Linked DNA regions of Homo sapiens: region 1 is reported to be linked to region 2. The links are microRNA targets in miRTarBase. Many come from high-throughput screens and were not tested one by one. Region 2 holds a microRNA gene; the other region holds the end of a gene's coding sequence.
Evidence for each region. Region 2 holds the annotated microRNA hsa-miR-1271-5p (CUUGGCACCUAGCAAGCACUCA, at 1,579-1,600, opposite strand). A microRNA usually pairs through its seed, bases 2 to 8, with sites in the 3' UTR of a target mRNA and lowers its output. Matches are read on the target gene's strand: a 7mer-m8 pairs with bases 2 to 8, a 7mer-A1 pairs with bases 2 to 7 and ends in A, and an 8mer does both.

Region 1 (4,055 bases), not on the chromosome of region 2:
GAGCTATGTCTCCTCCAACCGTGCCTCCGATGGGGGTAGATGGCGTGTCCGCATACCTGATGAAGAAAAGGCACACCCACAGGAAGCAACGGCGCAAGCCCACTTTCCTCACTCGTAGGAACATCGTGGGCTGCCGCATTCAACACGGCTGGAAGGAAGGCAACGAGCCAGTGGAGCAGTGGAAGGGTACTGTGCTCGAGCAGGTTTCCGTGAAGCCCACTCTTTACATCATTAAATATGATGGCAAAGATAGTGTGTATGGACTAGAACTGCACCGCGATAAGAGAGTTTTAGCGCTAGAGATCCTTCCTGAGAGAGTGCCAACTCCTCGTATCGATTCACGACTGGCAGATTCCCTGATTGGCAAGGCAGTGGAGCATGTGTTTGAAGGTGAACATGGTACCAAGGATGAATGGAAGGGTATGGTCCTGGCGCGAGCTCCTGTGATGGATACTTGGTTTTACATCACCTACGAGAAAGATCCTGTTCTCTATATGTACACGCTGCTTGATGACTACAAAGATGGTGACTTACGCATTATTCCAGATTCCAACTACTATTTCCCTACAGCAGAACAGGAGCCTGGAGAGGTGGTCGACAGTCTCGTGGGCAAGCAGGTGGAGCATGCCAAAGATGACGGGTCCAAGAGAACTGGCATTTTTATACATCAAGTGGTGGCGAAGCCATCTGTTTACTTCATTAAGTTTGATGATGATATTCACATTTATGTCTATGGTTTGGTGAAAACTCCTTAAATTCTTTGTGCTCTTTAGAGAAGTTGTGGATCTGTTAGATGTGAATTATTTTGTGTTCTCGTAGTTGTGAACGCAGAGAAGAGTTTAGGTGTCAGAAATTCAGGAAAGTGGATAAATTTTATTGTGCCAACAAATCTTACCTTGACTAGTTTCACAATTTTGCCTCAAGTGTACTTTGCTACTTTTGATATTGCCTTGTTCTGTAACTTAACAGTTAAATTGGGTGCTAATAGAAAATTAAAAAGTGTTTGCAACCATTGGAACAATGCAAAAATAGATTAAGAAAAATTAATGGTGTAAACCCACACCCCGTCCTTACCCCTTCCTTTCCTTACCTTGTTTCTTCCCAGAAAACAAGTGTTGAGGATGCGAAGTACATCCTTCCACCTATTTTCCCCATCTTCATGCAGAAAGTATGTTCTAGTAGTTTCTGTAAAAATGGCAAGCCACATGCTTTTCTCACTTGACATGTAGATGATATCTCTTCTTATCAGTAGCTTCAGTCTTTCTTGCTCTCTCTGGCTCTCTCTGGCCCTCACTCTTACTCTCTTGCACTCTTGCTCTCCCCCTCCCTCCCTTACTCTAACAGCTGAATACACAGTACTTGTTGATGTACCAAAAAGGCATTCAACCATTTCGTTATTGATCGTCTTTTATTTCCTTTTTTTATTTTTTTTCAAAATAACACTGCTGTAATACATACTGGTGCTTTTATTTATATAGGTTGGATTCCCAGAAATACTATGTAGGCATATGTTTCAGAAATATTACAAGATTACTATCCAAAATGAAAGCGCCCGTTCCAGCGTCCTCTCCAGCACTCTTTAATGCTTGAAAATATGAAAGGCTAAAAATTGCATTGTATTGCTTGTTAGTTTAATTGCCTTTTGTCTGAGTTCAAAGAGGTTTGTTGTTGTTGCTGTCCTTGTTTCTGTTTGGATTTTTCTCTGATTTGCCTGTTCTTACCCTTTGCTCATGTATCTATTGATGTTTTTCATTATAAATTTGTAGAAATTCTTACTACATAGTGCATATTAATCATTTGTAGCTCTAATGTGTTATGACGTTTTCATCTTGACTTTATTGATGATATATTTTCCTTTAAAATTTTTAAACTTTTTAGGTAGACCCTTATCTCTTTTATAGATTTTGGTTTCCTTTTTTTATCACATGGATGCCCCCACCCAAAGTCATACAAATATTCACCTACATTTTCTTCTAATAACTTTATTATTTTTAATGTTTAAATGTTTGATCCATCTGAAATTTATTTTTGTATATGGTGTAAGATGGGGATCCAGCTATAACATTTTGTTCACATTGGATACCTGATTGTGACATTTATTTAAAATGTTACCCATTTTCAAATTTCTGAGCCAATATCATGATTTAATTATAGTGGCTTCATCGTAAGTTTTAGAATCCGATAAAGCAAGTCCCACTTCATTAGTTTTTTTTTTCTTTATATAATATGTCCTAGACATTCATTTTTTCATGTGAAAAAATGAAATGCAGAATTTTAATAAAATTCTAATTATGATGGCTGACATCACAATTAAAATCCTGCATTTTTGTTTAGAGGGCTCTTTAATAATATTAAATCTTAGCACTCAAGAGTCTTCGTACATCATTGAAATCTTTTGGTCTTGTTATTGGAATATTCTTCACGTAAGTATATCATAGCTAACTGAATTTATTTCTAAGTATTTTTACAGTTTTATTTCATATTTTGACATTGTGAATTGGTTTTTTTCTTCTCATTTGTAATTAGCTATTTTTGACAATATAGACAACCTATAGATTTTTGTATTTTTATCTTCTGTCTAATGAGCTTATTTAATCATTGAAATTACAGTAGATTTTTAAGAATATAATATTTTGGGTTTTCTAGATATGAAATTATTTCACCTGAACATATAGATCATTTTATTTCCTCTTAATGTTTATACTGATTACTGTTACATTAGCTGGATTTTTCAAAACAATGTTGAAGAGTGATGACAGACGTGACTGTCTTGTTCTTAATTTTCATGGAAGTAAGAATGCAAAATATTAATAGGGAATAGTATTCCCTATTAGTATGACATTTACTTTTGGTTATTAGTAGGTAGTCATTAACATGTTTAAGAGTTTCCGCTATTCCTGTTTTATAGTGTTATTGCTAGAAGTGGTTCCTGAATTTTATAAAATGCCTTTTCAGCATCTATTGATAAAATTGTATGATTTTTTTTCTCTTTAATTTGTTGATGTAATGAATTAGAATGGTAGGCATTTGATGTGGAACCAAACTTGTATTTCTGGAACAAATACTACTTGGTCATTGTGAAATAATGATTTGCTACATGAGTGGATTTTATTTACCAGTATTTAATTTAGAATTATTGCATTTTCATTCCAAAGTAAAATTGTATTTTGTCCTTCTGATGCTATCTTTATCAAGTTTTGTTATTGAAGTTGTGCTAGCTTTAAAAAAATATGAATATGTGAGTTTTCAATTTTTTTCCTGTGGTCTGGAATAATTTAAATAGCATTAGAATTATTTGTTTGTTAAAAGTTAGCTAGGACAAAGTGTAAAACAATCTAATCCTGATGACACTTTTAATAGTAGATTTTTAATCAGCTTTGTGATTTCTTTAATAGTTATTGGTTTATTCAGGCTTTTTATTAAAAAGGTATATACATTCTCTGTGACATACAAAGTTAAAAGTTCTCTATTATTGCTGATTGTACTGGTTGTTGCTTGTTGACTGTACTATTCAGATGGCTTTATGCTTTTGTGTATTTTATGTCACCTAGATCTAATTCTGAAAACATTGTAATAAAATAATTAGCTATAATGGTATTTTCAATTATCTTTGTATTTTATTTATCAAAATTAAATCAAAATATAGGAAAGTATGAAAGATATGACAAACATTTTCTCACCTCCACCCAAAATTAATAAGTGTCAACATTTTGGCCTATTTGATATAGATAGAGATATATATTATTAAACAGTCAGAAAATTACAGATAATAAATATCTTTCCCAGTACCATCCCACTTCCATTCTTTGAATAGGCAGACACTGTAATTAATTTGGTATGATTCTTGCCCATGTTTTATGTTTTTACTACATATTATCACCATAACTGATAATAGTATTGATTTTTATGTTTTTTTTTTTTTTAAATTTCCCCATGAATGATGAACTTTAAACCATGTGGAGTTTATTTTATGTTTTGTTGTAAGGATCTGTGTTTCTCCAGTGGAAAAACAGATTGCAACAACACAACCAATAGGACTGACCTTAGAATGCTAG
Region 2 (4,067 bases):
GAAATGTTATTCAAAACCACACCTGGGGGCCAGACACAGTGACTCATGCCTATAATTCCAGCACTTTGGGAAGCTGAGGCGGGCGGATCACTTGAGGTCAGGAGTTCAAGACCAGCCTGGCCAACATGGCAAAACTCCACCTCTACTAAAAATACAAAAATTGGCTGGGTGTGGTGGCACATACCTGTAATCCCAGCTACTCGGAAGGCTGAGGCACAAGAATTGCTTGAACCCGGGAGGTGGAGGTTGCAGTGAGCCGAGATCACACCACTGCATTCCAGCCTGGGCGACAGAACAAGACTCTGTCTCAAAAAAAAAACAAAAACAAAACACCATGCCTGGCATATAGGAGGCACTTAATAATTATTTTTCTCATCTCTCCAGAGTACGAGATGATAGGGAGGCAAAGAGGAAGGAAGACAGAGGCAGGGATCAGGACAGGGCATAGGTAGAAGAGGTGGGGGCAGCATCTCAGCCACCCTCTCCAGGCCATGGGCCCAGGCAGCGCTCCTTGCCCCTGCCCAAGCATCTCTGAGTGGATGTCACCTGGACCGAGCTGCCCTCTCACAGCCCTCACCTGCTTGTTGGCCACCACGACGACAGGCAGGTCAGGGTCCTTGTCCAGCAGCTTGTGCAGCTCCTGTCGGGCCCAGGGCAGCCGCAGTCGGTCAGCCGAGTCCACCACAAACACCAGCACATCCACCTCGCTCACAAACTCCTTCCAGTAGAAGCGCAGGTTCTGGCTGCCCCCAACTGAGGAGAGGCCAGGGGCCAGCTCAGAGCCTCCCGGGCCCCCGCTCACTGCCCACAGCCCCCACCCCACCCCGGGCCCCCGCTCACTGCCCACAGCCCCCACCCCACCCCGGGCCCCCGCTCACTGCCCACAGCCCCCACCCCACCCTGCTTCTAGCTTAGTGAGCTTCCACCAGCCGGGGGCAAGGAAAAGACCGCAGTTTCCGCAGCTACTCAGACTGGATTTAGCTCTAGCTCTGATAGGCGGGTCTCTTGGGGCAAGTCCCTAGCTTTAAGCACCAGTCTCCTCACTGAACTTTCCTAACGGGTTGTTGCAGTAAAACCCACAGGTACCACGTGCGATGTACCTTTCACGGGACTGACACACAGGTGCTCAGTAAATGGAAGTCTTCAGTTCTCTCCCCTGGGTTGTCTGGCTTTGCCTCTTGCTAATTCCTAGCTTTCTCCTACAGGTTCAAAACTGTCAGTGATGGCTGTGACAGGAGCCAGGAGTCCTATTGTCTAGAAAACTCAGGACCCCCTGCCCTGCCTATACACAGCCATTCTCCATTCAGTTTCCCCCATCCCCTTCTTTTCCCTTGGAAATGTCATATTTCATCCTATGAACACATGGTTGCCAACACAGTCCCCCAGCCTGGATCACCTTTCTTTTCCTCTCTGCTCCTCTGCACAGTCCCATTGGTCACCCCGCACCCTAGTGTTTCTGGCTATGTTTCTGACACTTGAGGATTCTAAGCTGTGAGAGTCAGAGGCACTTACCTCTGAATCCCCACAAAGCCCTCAGCACAATGCCTGGCACATAGCAGGCACTCAACAAATATTTACTGAGTGCTTGCTAGGTGCCAAGCACTGATCTGGGTGCTGCAGATACAGAGGTGAGCAAGGCAAGCAGGGGCCCTGCACCAAGGAGCTCCCTCCCTAACTGGGAAGGACATGGCAATGACATCAACACATTTCAAAAAGGAAAGAAATAAAACAGAAAAAAGGGAAAGTGGCTGAGGTGGAACAGGGGTTGGCCCTGGATTGGGTGGTCTGGGTAGGTCTCATCAAGGAAGTGGCATGTGAGCTGAGTGGGATGATGAGAAGGAGCCAGCCATGGGAAGAGGCAGAGGAAAGCATTCCAGACAGAGGGGAGAGCATGCTGGAAGTGTCTGGGAAACAGAAAGAAGGCTGGGGTGCTGAGGCACTGCAAGAAGGAGAAAGAGATGGCTGTGAGGCTGGCTGGGGCGGGCCACATGGGGCCAAAGACCACAGTGAGGGGGTGGGGAGCCCCCCAAGGGCTTTAAGCAAGAGTGACATTACCTGACATGGGTTTTCTCTAGCTGACACTAGGGACAGAAGGGGAAGCAGGAAGACCAAAGAGGAGGCTGTGGTGCTGAGAGGAAAGATGACACTAGTTTGGGCCAGACAGGCAATAGTGGAGGAGGGTGTGCCACTGCCCACTGCCATTCCAGCCTGGGCGACAGAGACCCTGTCTCCAAAAAAAAAAAACTAGAATGGTGGGGTGCGATGGCTTACGCCTGTAATCCCAGCACTTTGGGAGGTCGAAGCGGGCAGATCACTTGAGGTCAGGAGTTCAAGACTAGCCTGACCAATGTGGTGAAACCCCCGTCTCTACTAAAAATACAAAAATTAGCCGGGCGTGGTGGCGGGCGCCTGTAATCCCAGCTGCTCAGGAGGCTGAAGCTGGAGAATCGCTTGAACCCGGGAGGAGGAGGTTGCAGTGAGCCGAGACAGCGCCATTGCACTCCAGCCTGGGTGTCACAGTGAGACTCCATCTCAAAAAAAAAAAAAAAAAAAAAAAGACTAGAAAGGTGGGTGACCTTGGATTCATGATACTACTGCTGGAACTCATTTTCCTCTGGAGATAACGAGGGTAGTGACCGATTCTAGTTTTATGTAATTGTTTAGGGGAGTTTTCTTAAGCAATGCCCGTCAAGTGCTTGGCATATGAACCCTTAGCTGTTAGTATCTCTGTGTTAGGCCTATCGACTTTGGTAGGGGTGATGGGGCAGGCGGTGCAGCTGGAGAGGCCCGATCACGAAGGGCCCTAAATGTCAGAGCACAGAGCGTGGGCTGAATCCTGTGCCCCGGAGAGCGGTGGGAAGGATTCGTAGAGGGGAATGTGCTGCTTAGACATGCATTTTGGAAGCCCCCTTCCCTGCAGAGAATCCAGGACTGGTCCAGTAGAGGAGACGGGGAGATGGGGTAGGGTGTCCGCTCACTTTCTAGCAGGTCCACCTCAAAGTCCTTGGTGGGCAGACGCACGGAGTTGAAGCCCCAGGTGGGGATGTGGCCTTCCAGCGGTGGCTTCCCCGACAACACGCGCAGGAACGTGCTCTTGCCTGCGCCATCCAGCCCCAGCACCAGCACCTCGCGCTGTTCCAGCTCCTCCAGCGCCGGCTCCTCGTCCTCCTCGTCCTCGGGCTGCGGGGAAGCGGAGGTAAGGTTGCGGCTGGCGGCCTCCCGAAGGACCTTTCCCGAGGGAAGACCGAAGGCACCAGAGGGCCCAGGCCCGCCTTCCACCCGTCCTGGGACAGGCAGGCATGGTCTGGATGAGTGGGACGAACGCCGCCTTTGCAGTCCTGAATTCCAAACCCTTGGCGAATTCCTTAAACGCTCGCGCGCCCCGCTTCCTCCACCGGTCTCGGAGTCCCGACCGCAGGCGGGAGGGGATGGGGTTTCTCCCGACATCCCCACCCCCGGGCGGGGTGCACTGCGCAGGCGCCGGAGGGGCGCGAGCCGACCCGGCTGGGCCCCGGGATGCTCCCGAGCCGCGCCCTCCAAACTCCGGCCCCCGCTGGAACACCCGAGCCTCATGGCGTGGAGCGACGGCGTGGCGCCAAGGCGCCGCACGCACCCAAGCACACCCACCCGTTCCTCGGTTCCCGGGCTCTGACCGCCCACCCGCGCGGGGCCTGTGCGCTGCGGCTGCCAAGCCCTCGACCCCCCAAGCTCCCGGCACCAGCAGGGCCGTTCCGTGGTCACACCCCTTGGCCACATGCGCGGAGTCGCAGCCCAGCCTGCCCGCCCTTCCGCAGGCCTCGGCCCGGCACTCACGTCCCACTCGTCCCACTCGGGGAGGCGGGCAGCCTCCGCGCCCCACCAGGCCTCTCCCCGGTCCCAGCGCCGCTCTCGGCCGCGGCCGAAGTAGGTCTTCCAGAGGATGAAGAGCACCGAGCCCAGCACCGCCGCGGCGCCGCCCAGCGCCAGCACCAAGGGGCCCAGCGGCCGCGGCGCCATCGGGCCGGGCGAGGGACGCAGGTGCGGGTTGCACAGGCCGAGCCCACTCGCCCGCCGAAGATGGCCCCGCT

Region 1: the mRNA of SPIN4 is a reported target of hsa-miR-1271-5p. Seed matches in the 3' UTR shown: 7mer-m8 at 879-885.

What each region holds. Positions count from the first base shown.
Region 1 is chrX:63,346,770-63,350,824 of GRCh38, reverse strand. It overlaps SPIN4 (spindlin family member 4), which reads left to right. Exons shown (of 1, transcript NM_001012968.3): 1 at 1-3,597. The coding sequence starts at 6. The coding sequence ends at 755. SPIN4-AS1 (SPIN4 antisense RNA 1) reads right to left here. Exons shown (of 3, transcript NR_046739.1): 2 at 1,091-1,185. Among named protein-coding and RNA genes, the nearest start is that of SPIN4, 2.5 kb to the left of the region's middle. RefSeq lists enhancers at 25-74, 175-304.
Region 2 is chr5:176,365,493-176,369,559 of GRCh38, reverse strand. MIR1271 (microRNA 1271) reads right to left here and starts at 1,614; the gene lies at 1,529-1,614. It overlaps ARL10 (ARF like GTPase 10), which reads right to left. Exons shown (of 4, transcript NM_173664.6): 1 at 3,814-4,067; 2 at 2,979-3,180; 3 at 578-753. The coding sequence starts at 3,996. RefSeq lists a silencer at 3,819-4,067.